Linked DNA regions of Homo sapiens. The protein of the gene in region 1 interacts with the protein of each later gene in a pairwise test. Each region holds a gene or a part of one and is shown on either strand. Other genes may lie near its edges.

Region 1 (7,000 bases):
ACCAGCGCCCGGGCTGGGCCGTTTCCTCACCTCGTATCACCTAATCCTAAGAAGTTGGTGTTACCCCCCTCATTTTGTAGCTAAGGAAACTGAGGCTCCGAGAGGGAAAGGAGTTTTTGAACCCAGGCCTGTCTGACTTCAAAACTATCCCCTTCACGCCTCTCCCAGTTGTGTGGAGAGGGTGGGGACAGGGGAGGGACACTCACTGAGGCTCTTCCTGGCGTCTGTGCTGAGGATCTGGCTGGCCCGCTTAGATCGGAAGTAGTTGCTGGCAATGTTTTCACTGTTGCTCCGACTGAGCATGAGCCTGTAGCGGTCGTCCTCCTGCCGAGATGCAGATGCCCGTGGTCACGTCCCCTTGTTTGTGCCCCTGGCACAGGGCTCCACAGCCTCTGGTATCCTGGGGCAGTGGGGGCCGCCCCGAGCTTCCCCGAAGTTGTCACAGGGCTGGAGCAGGCACTGCCCACTCTGGTGTACCCTACACCGTAGATCCTGGACTCGGGGGTGGGATCCCAGGCAGCTCGGGGCCAGGAAGTCAGTCTCCAGCCAAGCCTGCACCCGGCCTCCCCTTCCTTGAGATGGGAAGTGCCTTATTCTGTCCTACAAAGCTCAAAACAGGGTGTCCTGCCAGCTCCAACAGGGGGGCCGGGTTGATACACAAGCCCCAAATCTATCACGACATGTTCATAGAATAGGCAATGCGTTGCTATCCTCAGCTCACAGGTACATTTGTGATCATTAGAACTGGAATCCAAACCTTCTTATCACCAAGAGCTATTATTTTTCCCCACTATTATGGACTTGTTTTCTTCAATCTAAATCTCCCTTTTCAGGGAATTGTCCTTCTTCCACTTGACATCCCAGTGGGGTGAGCATTCATAGTGCCCTATACTACATCTGACTCCCATCCTGTTGTTACACAGCTGGACATGTGACCCAGACTGCACCAATCACAGAACCACATCCTCCTAAACACAGTAATTGGTTCAAGAGTAGACACATGACCCAGGCAGAGCCAATCAGAATCTCTCCCCAAGCTCTAGTTTCAGGATGCTTTAAGACAAGGGTTTCCAACCCCCAGGCCATGGACTGGTACCAGTCCCTGGCCTGTTAGGAACTGGGCTGCACAGCAGGAAGTGAGCGGCAGGTGAGCAAGTGAAGCTTCATCTGTATTTGCAGCTGCTCCCCATCACTTGAATTATTGCCTGAGCTGCACCTCTTGTCAGATCAGTGGTGGCATTAGATTCTCATAGGAGGGCAAACCCTATTGTGAACTGCACGTGTGAGGGATCCAGGTTGTGGTTCTTATGAGAATCTAATGCCTGAAGATCTGTCACTGTCTCCCATTACCCCCACATGGGACCGTCTAGTTGCAGGAAAACATGCTCACGGCTCCCACTGATTCTACATGATGGTGAGTTATATAATTATTTCATTATATATTACAATGTAATACTAATAGAAATGAAGTCCACATTAAATGTAATGCACTTGAATCATCCCGAAACTATCAGACCCCCCACCCCGTCCTGACCTGTGGAAAAATTGTCTTCCACGAAACTGGTCCCTGGTGCCAAAAAGACTGGGGACAGTTGCTTTAACAGACCAGGCCTCTCTTCCTTTTGGATCACCAATGGCCAGCAGCCATCCTTCCGGCCATGTGGAGAAAGCCTTCAGTTAGCATACCAAGGGAAGCAGGAACAAGAGGTGAAGACATAGGCCAGGAGCAGTGGCTCACGCCTGTAATCCCAGCACTTTGGGAGGCCAAGGCAGGCGGATCACCTGAGGCCAGGAGTTCAAGACCAGCCTGACCAACATGGAGAAACCCTGTCTCTACTAAAAATGCAAAAAAATTAGCTGGACGTCGTGGTGCATGCCTGTAATCCCAGCTACTCTGGAGGCTGAGGCAAGAGGATCGCTTGAACCTGGGAGGCAGAGGTTGCGGTGAGCTGAGATCGCACAACTGCACTCCAGCCTGGGCAACAAGAGTGAAACTCTGTCTCAAAAAAAAAAAAAGAGGTGGCCGGGCGCGGTGGCTCATGCCTGTAATCCCAGCTCTTTGGGAGGCCAAGGTGGGCAGATCACGAGGTCAGGAGATTGAGACCATCCTGGCTAACATGGTGAAACCCCGTCTCTACTAAAAATACAAAAAATTAGCCGGGCATGGTGGCAGGCACCTGTAGTCCCAGCTACTTGGGAGGCTGAGGCAGGAGAATGGTGTGAACCTGGGAGGCGGAGCTTGCCGTGAGCCGAGATTGCACCACTGCACTCCAGCCTGGGTAACAGAGCAAGACTCCGTCTCAAAAAAAAAAAAAGAGGTGAAGACAGACACAGACCCTGACTGTTTCAGCCCCTAGATCCAGCCGTGCCTGAAACTGGTCCACTTACATGAACTAAAAAATTCCTTATTTTTCTTATGGTTGTTTGCTTTGGTATCTATCGCTTGGAGCTGAAAGCATTCTGACATAACCTCTTTGTGGTCCCAGATTAAGAATGTCTTTTTTCCTGGCAGCAACTTTCCCTTTTTTATGAAGCTGCCAATCAAGCTCTAGACCACCATGAGTGGCCCCTTGCAGCCTGAGTTGCTCAGCCAGAGATGTTTGGTTGGAATTCATTAGCCTAGGAGTGGTCTTATCATAACTGTAAAGGTATATTCTATGTGGGTTTTCTGAAATATTTGTAATGGCTTAAGGCAGAATCAGCTAATTATGGCATACAGACCAAATCTGGCCTGCAGGCTATTTTTGTAAATAAAGTTTTATTGGAACACCATTCATTTGTGTATTACCTGTGGCTGTTTTTGTGCTACAGTGGCAGAGTTGAGTGGCTGTGACAGAGACCACATAGTTCACAAAGCCCAAGATATTTATGATCGGGTCCTTTACAGAAAAATTTTGTTGACCCCTTGTTTTGAACAAAACTCTTAGAGTTTCTCTGTTAACTTAGCTGGTAGTTATTGTCCCCAGCAGCCACCAGAGGCCCAGACACAAGGACACCAAGAGGGGGTCCAGCTGCTTGGGTCCCTCTCTGGTGGCCCTGCCTAGCCTGAGGATCTGTAAATAATAACAACTTTCATATCATTGTTCATGGAGTTGTGTCATGGAAGCTGTGCCTGCTGACCAGGCCACCCCAAGGGACTGGTGGACTCCCGCTGGTGCCCTTCTGTCTGGGCCTCTGGTGGCTGCTGGGGACAGTAGCTCCCAGCTAACTTAAAAAACTGGAAGAGTTTCGTTGAAAACACCCCGCTTAGCTGGGCACAGTGGCTCACGCCTATAATCCCAGCACTTTGGAAGGCTGAAGCGGGCAGATCACGAGGTCAGGAGATCGAGACCATCCTGGCTAACACAGTGAAACCCCGTCTCTACTAAAAATACAAAAAATTAGCCGGGCTTGGTGGCGGGTGCCTGTAGTCCCAGCTACTTGGGAGGCTGAGGCCGGAGAATGGCTGAACCTGGGAGGCAGAGCTTTCAGTGAGCCGAGATCGCACCACTGCACTCTAGCATGGGCGACAGAGCGAGACTCTGTCTCGAAATAATAATAATAATAATAATAATAATAAATAAAATAAAATAAAATAAAATAGAGGCCGGGCGTGGTGGCTCATGCCTGAAATCCCAGCACTCTGGGAGGCTGAGGCAGGAGGATCACAAGGTCAAGAGATCGAGACCATCCTGGCCAACCCGGTGAAACTCTGTCTCTACTAAAAATACAAAAATTAGCTGGGCATGGTGGTGCGCGCCTGTAGTCCCAGCTGAGGCCAAGGCAGGAGAATTGCTTGAACCTGGGAGGCAGAGGTTGCAGTGAGCCAAGATCGCACCACTGCACTCCGGCCTGGTGACAGAGCGAGACTCCATCTCAAAAAAAAAAAAAAAAAAAAAAAAAAAAAAAAAAAAAAAACAACCACCACCACCCATGCTTTAAGAACATGCATTTCTGTTGCACTATAAAATATAGGAGATAGGTCTTGCCACTGAGCTTAGAAAAAGAAAAAAAAAAAAAAAGACAGAATATGAGAGACGGGAAAATAAAGTGACTTAGGAATCCCAATTACTGCTTCATGAACCCTGTGAGGACCCTCTTGGTCTGAGGATTACCAGCAGGAAACCAGAATGTGCTGCTTGTCCTCTGAGTTTGAGGCTGAAGTCTCTGTCCTTCACCGGCAAGATGGGCCACCGAACCATCTACTTTCCCTTGGTATTTATGACTGTGAGTACCTTTGAATGAGGGCCAGAGGGGGTTGAGGGTCTAGGTGCCAATGGAGGGGCATGAAAAGGATCCAGCCTTGGCCCCTTCTTTAATCCTTAGGCGGGAGGAAAGTGGAAAACCAGCTCTCCACAGTAACACTGACCCACAGCACTGGGGGCAAAGCCCTCCCAGCCCCCGACACCCCACTCCCTCTCCCGCGGTCCTCACCATGTTCGGCTCGCCATTGTCTGCTGCAGAGGTTTTGCGGGCTGGTTTGTTCTGTGGCCCAGTTGAAACTGCTATGAGAAAACAAAAGCTGAAGTCACTGCTGCCTGGTGCAAGGCCTAGAGGAGGGCACAGGTGGAGGTGGGGGTCAGGCCTGGCTCAGGCTTAAACAGGGGAGGACACTTCCCAGCCCAAGCCAAGGGATAATTTTAAGAAACAGACAGCAGGAGGGGCTCAGGCACCAGAGAAGACCCTCATCTGCTTGCAGGCAAGACAGCAGCCAAGGGGCTTCCAGGCAAGACAGCAGGCGAGGGTGGGGACAGACAGGAAGGCTGCTGCATCCCAGAGCATGTGGGAAATGGAGGCGGGCTGGGGTCTCAGCAGGGATGGTGTCAATAAACATCAGAGATGTTGGACCTGGATGAACACGCTGAGCAAGAGGGAGGACTCCTGGGGGGCACTGCGGGCTCCCCAAATGGGCAGAGTCAGGTCCACGGCTGGAGAAAGAGCCACAGCATGTCTGGCTTTACTCTGAGACTCATCAGAGGTGAGGAGGCTTTCAAGGTCATCTGATCCAACCCCTTCTTTGTAAAGAAGCCCAGAGAGGGACAGTGATCTTCGGAAGGCCATACGGGAGGTCAGCAGCAAGAGCGGAAGTGGAACCAGGCCTGAAACTCTGAACTGTGGGTTTTGATCCATGGTCCTCCCACTCACTGCTGTGACTGTGACTTTGGACCCTCTGAGATTGTGTCCTCCTATGTGAAATGGGTAGAAAACCTGTCTTCTCAGGGCTGTCGTAAGGATGAACCAGTGACAATGCTGATTAGGATAACAATGACATGCAGCGAGCATCACTATGTGCCAGGCACTGCTGTAAGGGTTTTCTGTGTATTAACACATTTCTGGTTTTTGTTTTTTCGGGGTTTGTTTTGAGACAGGGTCGCACTTTGTTACCCAGGCTGGAGTGCAGTGGCACGATCTTGGCTCACTGCAGCCTTGACTTCCCAGGCTCAAGCGATCCTCTCGCCTCAGCCCCCATAGTAGCTGGGACTACAGGTACATGCTGCCATGCCTGGCTAATTTTTCTATTTTTTTTTTTTAGAGACAGGGTTTCACCATGTTGGCCAGGCTGGTCTCGAACTCCTGGACTCAAGCAATCTGCCAGCCTTAGCCTCCCAAAGTGCTGGGATTACAGGCGTGAGCCACCATACCTGGCCTATTAACACATTTCAAACCTTACAGCAACTTTAAGAAAGGTGCTGTTATTCATCCCCATTTCACAGATGAAGACACCGAGTCCCAAAAAGGGCACACAGGGAACGGTGCTGCCAGAATTCCAACCCACATCTGTCTGCCTCCAGAACACACCACTTTCTCAGAGTCCTGACGCATCAGGTACCCAGGGTCACGTGTCTTCTACACCCACAGCCTGCAAGGAGAGGCCCACACTCCCTGCCAGTCTGCAGGATGGTAAGCCGTGAAGGAGGGAGGGGAGGGCAAGGGCCAGCCAAGCTCCTGACCTACTGGGAGGCTGGTTTTTGTGATGACGGGATGTGGGATCTTCCAGAAGCCGTTATCTTCGTCCCAGCAGGACTCACGCAGAATCTTCTCCAGGTTGCTGTAGTTACAGTCCCTGCGAATCAGGGGCTGCACCTGCTCCAGGAGCTGCTGCAAGAGCATGGAGTCACGCTCCTGCCGGCGGATGGTGGCCAAGTAATCGATCTTCTCCAGCTGAAACTCGGACTGCAGATCTTTGATCTCCACCTCTGCTGCCCGAAGCTGAAAGCAAAGGATGACAAGCAGTGAGCAGGGAAAGATACCTCCCCTTCCATCTAACCACCCTGTCCACTCACTGTCCTGCCAGCAGCCACGCATCGTCTGTTCATTGGCCTGATCAGCCATCCATTCTCATCCCCACCATCCATCCAGCCATCCTTCCCTCCATCCATCCATCCACCTCCTCTCACACCCACTGATCCTTCCGTCTATCCAATCACCCTGCTGTCTCTCCACCCAGCATTTAAATGAGCACCTAATGTGTCCCCCCAGCCCTGCAAAATGTAGGGGAAAAGTTGATCAGCAATCCCAACAGCCAGCCCCTCAGTCACTATCTCCCATTGTACATTTTATTCAGGAGCCTTTGAGAAGTCCCCACATCCAACACCACCGTTCTAAAGGATATCAGAGAATTGCACAAGTGACATCTCTAAGGAGGACAACAGGCACAAACTCTCCGACTTGACAATCCTCACTCTCCCACTGCCACAGCCCTGTGTGACGGTGTGACAAACACTGGACCTAAACAATGGACCTAAGAGTAAGACCCACCTTGATCTGATCAAGGGTTCCAGATTCTTTTGGTCTCCTGCTCAAGTCTGCCAGACCGGTCCCCCGGTCCCTCCTGAGCACAGGTGACTGCCAGCCCCAGCCATAACCACCCTCTCCCTGAGCCCCAAGACTACCTGGTGCACAGTCTGTTTCCTCAAAGAGCAGGTACAGTCTGATTAGTAAAGAAGGATGTTTGAGGCAGGGCGTGGTGGCTCACACCTGTAATCCCAGCACTTTGGAAGGCCGAAGCGGGCGGATCACT
Region 2 (7,031 bases), on another chromosome or scaffold:
AGGCAGGCGGATCACGAGGTCAGGAGATTGAGACCATCCTGGCTAACACGGTGAAACCCTGTCTCTACTAAAAATACAAAAAAAAAAAAAAAAAAAAAAAAGAAAGAAAGAGCCAGGCGTGGTGGCGGGTGCCTGTAGTCCCAGCTATTCAGGAGGCTGAGGCAGGAGAATGGCATGAACCTGGGAGGCAGAGCTTGCAGTGAGCCGAGATCATGCCACTGCACTCCAGCCTGGGTGACAGAGCGAGGCTCCATCTCAAAAAAAACAAAAACAAAAACAAAAAAACAAACAACAAAAAACAGGTACTCCATTTGGTTATTGGAAACATTTAAGCATGTTTGGAGCAACTTGGGTATGTATATGTACTTTTTCAACTCTAACTTTTATGAAATCTAAATACAGATCCAATATTTTTGATGGGTCAGGTACAGTAGCTCACACCTGTAATCCCAGCACTTTGGGAGGCCAAAGTGGGAGCGCTGCCTGAGCGCAGGAGTTCAAGACCACCCTGGGCAATATAGCAAGACCCCATCTCAGAAAAAAAAAAATTTTTAATGAAAATTTACTGTCCAAATTTAGATGTGCCATAAATATAAAATACATCTGGATTTCAAAGATTTAGTGTGAAAAAAGAAGGTAAAATATCTCACAATTATTTTGTATTGATTGCATGGATATATTGGGCTAAATTAAAAAATATATATATTTTTTGAGATGGAGTTTTGCTCTTGTCGCCCAGGCTGGAGTACAATGGCGCGATCTCGGCTCACTGCAACCTCTGCCTCCCAGGTTCAAGCGATTCTCCTGCCTCAGCCTCCTGAGTAGCTGGGATTACAGGCATGCGCCACCACGCCCGGCTAATTTTGTAGTTTTAGTAGAGATGGGGTTTCTCCATGTTGGTCAGGCTGGTCTCAAACTCCTGACCTCAGGTGATCTGCCCGTCTTAGCCCCAAAAAGTGCTGGGATTACAGACGTGAGCCACCCCACCTGGCCTAATAAAAAATATTAAAATTGACATCTCTTATTTCTTTTTGCTTTTATGTGTAGCTTACTAGAAAATTTAAAATTATACACGTGGCTTGTATTATATTTCCACTGGCCACTGCTGCTTAAGGCACTGCTTTCTGGCTTGTAACATCACAGAAAGAGACAAGTAGACACTACGTGCCTCCCTCCTGAATGCATTACCTGGGAAGCAGTGTGGGGAAAAAAAAAATCAAACCTGAATCTGAATCTGATTAAGTCTTGAGATCCAACTATTAGGTTGATCCATGTGAAACTTCTGTTTTTGTAGGTAAAAAAATGGTCAAATATCAGCATATATATGTATATCTTAATTATATATTTTGTGACAGAGTCTCACTCTGTCACCCAGGCTGGAGTGCAGTGGCACAATCTCGGCTCACTGCAACCTCTGCTTTCCGGGTTCAAGCGATGCTTGTGCCTCAGCCTCCCAAGTAACTGAGATTACAGGCGTGTGCACCACCACACCCAGCTAATTTTGTAGTTTTAGTAGAGGCGGGATTTCACCATGTTCTAGAGCCAGGCTGCTCTAGAACTCCTAGCCTCAAGTGATCTACGCACTTTGGCCTCCCAAAATGCTGGGATTACAGGCGTGAGCCACTGCACCTGGCCAGATTAAAAGATATTTTTAAAGAGAGATAACATGAAAAAGAAAGTTCAGAAGTGACTGTCCTAAGTGTCAAGACAGATGTTCCTCTCAGGGGATGGTGTGAGGTTGTCTGGAGGGGCAGGTAGAAAGCACTTGGGATGGCTGTGAGGTTCTCTCTGCTTTCATGGGGGTGACTAGAGTAACTCATTTGGCTGTACAGGTTTTTGGTCATTTTCTTTTTTTCTTCTTCTTCCCTTTAGAGATAGGGTCTTGCTCTGCTGCCCAGACTGGAGTGCAGTGGTGCAATTACAGCTCACTGCAGCCTCGAACTCCTGGACTCAAGTGATCCTCCCACCTCAGCCTCCCCACTAGCTTGGACTATAAGTGCATGCCAACGTGGCCAGCTAATTAAAAAAAATTTTTTTTTTTTTTGGTAAATATGGGGTCTATGTTGCCCAGGCTGGTCTCAAACTTCTGGCCTCAAGTGATCCTCCCACCTTGGCCTCCTGAGTAGGCTGGGACTACAAGTGCTCGCCACTGCACTGGGCTGATCACTGACTATGTGCGATATATTTAGCAATAAAAACAAGTTGAAAAAGAAAAGGAAGAGATAAATCCTAGGTCGGGGCTGCTCCCAGCAGCCTCTTGGGGGGCGCTCTGGGGACACGGGTGGGTACCAGAGGGCAGGCTGATGTGGCTGCCGCCTTCCCGCAGCTTGAGCAGGCGGCTGCGCTTGAAGTTGCCCTTGCGCTTGCGGACCCGGGGCTTCTCCTGGCTCAGCTGGCACATGAGCAGGTGCAGCTCCCGTTCCACGATGTCCATCTCACGTTCTGCCAGCTCCTGCTCCCGCCGCCGCAGCTGCTCCTCCTGGAAGCGCTGCTCCTGTGCCGCCCGCAGCAGCTCCTCCTCACGGCTCCGAAGCTCCTGGGAAGGAGAGGCGGTGGCTGGGGGGAGGGGCTTAGCTGCTCTGCTTCCTGGGGAGGGACCCAGGGCTGCTGCGTCTGGTTGGTGCCTCACACAAGGGTACCTTGCTGTGGGGTACACTGGTTTCACCACCCGACTCATGCTTTGCTAGCCAAGCTGGGTGCCAGGGCAGGGAACTGTGTTAGCTCAAAGAAAGGGGTGCTTTTTCTTTCTTTTTCTTTCTTAACTCTTCAATTTAGAAAACTTCAAACATCCACAAAAGCAGAGAACAGTGCACCCCCCTGTACCCATCATCCAATTTCAACAATTACCTATGCTTTGCGAATCTTGTATCCCCGTCCTTCTCTCCTCTTGCCCTCTCTTCGTTTCTGCTGTAGTATTTTAAAGCCAACCCCAGACATCATGCAGTGTCACCTGTAAGTACTTCAGTACAGGGTGCCTTTTTCTTATTAATCCACCAACAGGAGGCTGTCTTTTCTTAATATGCAAAAAAGGCTCCCTTGACCCTGCATGGACCCAAAGGCTGGGGTTCAGGGGAGGAGTCTCTGAGCAGCCCAAGGCATCAGAACTCAGGGGTCTTGCTCCATCTTTCCCACCTTGCCCCCTGCCTTCACCTTCTCCTTGGTCCGAAGGTCATCAAACATGTGCTGAATCTCCAGCTTCCAGTCTTCCTGCAGCGAGTGGAAGGACTCCAGTGGCATCTGGAACAGGGCTGACTGTTCGATGACTTCAAGCCGCTTCAAGATGCTACCGAAATCTGGCCGCCCGTGGGGGTCTGGGTCCCAGCATTCTGGGGTGGGAGGAGGAAGGACAGTGGTGGGGCATGGAGGTGTCAGTGGTCATGCTCTGGGGACTCAGCCTGCTCAGAGGAAGGCAGAATTTCTGGGGATGGCAGACAAACAGCTGCTATGGAGCTGAGGGGAAGGGATTCAAAGCCAAGCTCCTGGCCAATTCCACTCAGTGAAACGCTGGGAGAGAAACCCTGGGACCTGCACCCCGAGGAGGGGCTGGTAGTGGAATCAGGATCAAGGTGGAATCCCAGGGCCAAGGAATCCTAACAGGTTGTCCTGAGAGCTCTGGGCCTGGCCCAAACAAGGGCTGGGATGTGGGGGATGGAGCCAACCATGGGGAGGCTGTTTAGAGTCCAGTGGGTTCCAGCCCCTTCTTCCTCACTCCTGGGCCCACTGGTATGGATAGGTGTGAAGGGGAAAGGTCTGGGCCCACAGGTCCCTGCCACTCCAAGCTGAGCCTACCCTCGTCACGGGGCCCCGGCTCACCCTCCAGGAGGCGGGCAAAGGGCTCGGGGCACGTGGAGGGAATGGGCAGCGTCAGCTTATTCATAGCCACGCCATACGCCACGGCCAAGGCGTCGATCTCACGGTAGGGGACCTCCCCCGTCAGCAGCTCCCACAGCAGCACCCCGAAGCTGCAGGCAGGGGAGAGGGAGGGGTGATGTCGCAGCCCACCCCAATCCTCACCTATACCCAGCCCTGCCCTTGGTCCCATGCAGGGCTGCCCTCACCCCAACAGCCACCCCCGGCCAATGAGGTCACAAGAACTTGCTTTGACCTCCATGGCCTTGTTCTCCAATAGATGGGGTGGGTTTGGCTCTCTGATGTCTCTCCTTTGCTCGGCCTGTCTTCCCTCTCCCCTGCCTGAAAATCTTCAGGTCCCGTGTTCCTACTGGCCAAATCCATCTTTCTTATTTTTATTTTTGTAGAGATGGAGGTCTCACTATGTTGCCCAGGCTGGTCTCAAACTCCTGGGCTCAAGTGATCCTCCTGCCTGGGCTTCCCAAAGTGCTGGGATTACAGGCATGAGCCACTGCATCCCACCTAAATCCATCCTTCTTGGCCCTGGCCTTTGATGACCCCTGCAGCCTCACTTCCAAACACTCTCAGCCCATTCTAACCCCAACTTCATCTTGCAGCCACACTGAATACTGAGCAGGCCCTGTGCTTTCTAACCTCTGGCCTTCACACATGCTGTTCCCTTTGTGGAGAACACTCTTCCCTTGTGTAACTATTTGTCCCTCAAGTCTCAACACAGGTTGCCCCCTCTGTCAGGAAGCCTTCCTTGATTCCACAGCCTCCAAAGCTAGGTTAGAGGCCCCTCCTCTACGTTTCCCCAAAACACTCAGCACTTACCTCTAAAAACCAGTTAACATTATTTAACATTTATAAAGCACTTACTGCAGGCCAGGCACTGTGCTAGGCACTCGGTAATCCTCACAACAGCCCTGTAAGGCAGAAGGATTTGGTATGACCCCTGCTTTAGCTGATGAGCAGGTACACGCTCAGAGAGGTAAGGGGCTTGCCCAAGGTCACACAGCTAGTGAGTGGTGGAGCCACACTTGGACTCAGGTCTGCCTGCTGCCCACGACAGTGCTCTCAGTGGCTCCATGGTACCAGAGCGTGCGTCACTGTGCTGTGGTCCCTGCAAGGCTATCTTCCTCTGCAAACTCTACATCCTCCCAGATCCTGATGGCCATTCTGTGTGGTGTTTATCCTGGAGTAGATCCCTGGTCTCCCCACTATCCACTCATGCATTCATTCAACATATCCTTTTTTTTTTTTGAGACAAAGTCTCTGTCACCCAGGCTGGAGTGCAGTGGCATGATCTCGGCTCCCTGCAACCTCCGCCTCTTGGGTTCAAGTGATTCTTGTGCCTCAGCCTCCCAAGTAGCTGGGATTACAGATGTGCACCACCATCCCAGCTAATTTGTGTATTTTTAGTAGAGATGGGGTTTCACCATGTTGGCCAGGCTGGTCTCCAACTCCTGACCTCAGGTTCCGCCTGCCTCAGCCTCCCAAAGTGCTGGGATTACAGGCATGAGCCACTGCGCCCGGCCCATTCAACGTATACTTATTAAGTGCCTACTGTGTGCCAAGCACCATTTTAGACATTGGGAAGAGATAGACACAATCACTGCCCCCATATGCAGCTGACAGCCTCCCATTCTTCAGTGACAGTGCTGGTGAATTGAGCTGGCCACATGCTGCCTGCATGAATTTTCCATTCTCCTTTGCAGCTAAGCATGCCACATGACCACAGTTCTGGTACATGGGATGTAGGAGGGGGTGTAGTAGGCAACTAGCTTCCAGGAAGTATCCTCAAAAAGAAGGGGTGCCCGGCCGGGAAAGAGTGTGAGGTGGGATGATGGCTTGAGCCCAAGAGTTCAAGGCTGCAGTGAGCTATGACTATACCACCACATTCTAGCCTGCGTGGGAGAGTGAGAGCCTGTCTTTTAAAAATTTTTTTAAATGAAAAATAAATTTATAGTGGGTTAATTTTATATTATTTATATCTTAAATAAGATGAAATCTGTCCCCAAACACCCTATCCTGTAAAGACTATTGTTCAAAGAAGGAACAGAATGGACCCCAAAATAAGAGGTGAAAATCCCCACATACACTCTAGTCATGCCAAGGGCAGCCTGACAGGCAAGGCTTCTTGCTTCCTGTCTCAACTTATCCCTGTCCTGCGAAGCCGCGGCAGGACACATCTGCAGCTCAGCACAGCAGACAGGCACAGGAGCGCAGGAACAAAAACAACATGGGTAAGAAAATGAGGCCGGGCGCGGTGGCTCACGCCTGTAATCCCAGCACTTTGGGAGGCCGAGGCGGGCGGATCACAAGGTCAGGAGATTGAGACCATCCTGGCTAGCACGGTGAAACCCCGTCTCTACTAAAAATACAAAAAATTAGTCAGGCGTGGTGGCGGGCGCCTGTAGTCCCAGCTACTCGGGAGGCTGAGGCAGGAGAATGGCGTGAACCCAGGAGGCGGAGCTTGCAGTGAGCTGAGATCGTGCCACTGAACTCCAGCCTGGAAGACAGAGTGAGACTACGTCTCAAAAAATAAAAAGAAGGGGTGCCATTTTCCTTTTTTCCCCTTCTTGTGGTTGGAATGTAGACATAAAACCTGGAGCCTGGGGGGTGGGGGACAAGGGGAGGGAGAGCATTAGGCAAATACCTGACACACGCGGGGCTTCAAACCTAGATGATGGGTTGATGGGTGCAGCAAACTACCATGGCACATGTATACCTATGTAACAAACCCTGCACGTTCTGCACATGTATCCCAGAACTTAAAATTAAAAAAAAAAAAAAAAAAAAAGCTGGCGTGTGGAGCTAGGCACAGTGGCTCACGCCTGTAATGTCAGCACTTTGGGAGGCCAAGACAAGAGGACCTCTTGAGCCCAAGAGATCGAGACCAGCGTAGGAAACAAAGTGAGACCTCGTCTCTACAAAAAATTAGCCTGGTGTGGTGGCATGCCTGTAGTCCCAGCTACTAGAGAGGCTGAGGTGGGAGGATCACTTGAGCCCAGGAGGTTGAGGCTGCAATGATTTGTGACGGCATCACTGCACTCCAGCCTGGGTGACAGAGCAAGACCCTGTTAAAAAAAAAAAAAAAAAAAAGGCTGGGTGCGGTGGCTGACGCCTGTAATCCCAGCACTTTAGGAGGCCCAGGTGGGCAGATCATGAGGTCAAGAGAT

The links. Proteins that work in one complex are often made in the same cells at the same time.
Region 2: the proteins of KIF17 (region 1) and MAP3K10 interact in a two-hybrid assay, tested with the Homo sapiens proteins (one study listed by BioGRID).

The regions. Positions count from the first base shown.
Region 1 is NC_000001.11:20,666,008-20,673,007, forward strand, and holds part of KIF17 (kinesin-like protein KIF17), read right to left. Parts: intron 6,190-7,000; coding exon 5,931-6,189; intron 4,485-5,930; coding exon of another isoform or gene 4,482-4,484; coding exon 4,414-4,481; intron 325-4,413; coding exon 207-324; intron 1-206. UniProt on the Homo sapiens protein: Dendrite-specific motor protein which, in association with the Apba1-containing complex (LIN-10-LIN-2-LIN-7 complex), transports vesicles containing N-methyl-D-aspartate (NMDA) receptor subunit NR2B along microtubules.
Region 2 is NC_000019.10:40,201,416-40,208,446, reverse strand, and holds part of MAP3K10 (mitogen-activated protein kinase kinase kinase 10), read right to left. Parts: intron 3,963-7,031; coding exon 3,814-3,962; coding exon of another isoform or gene 3,790-3,813; intron 3,327-3,789; coding exon 3,151-3,326; intron 2,537-3,150; coding exon 2,290-2,536; intron 1-2,289. UniProt on the Homo sapiens protein: Activates the JUN N-terminal pathway.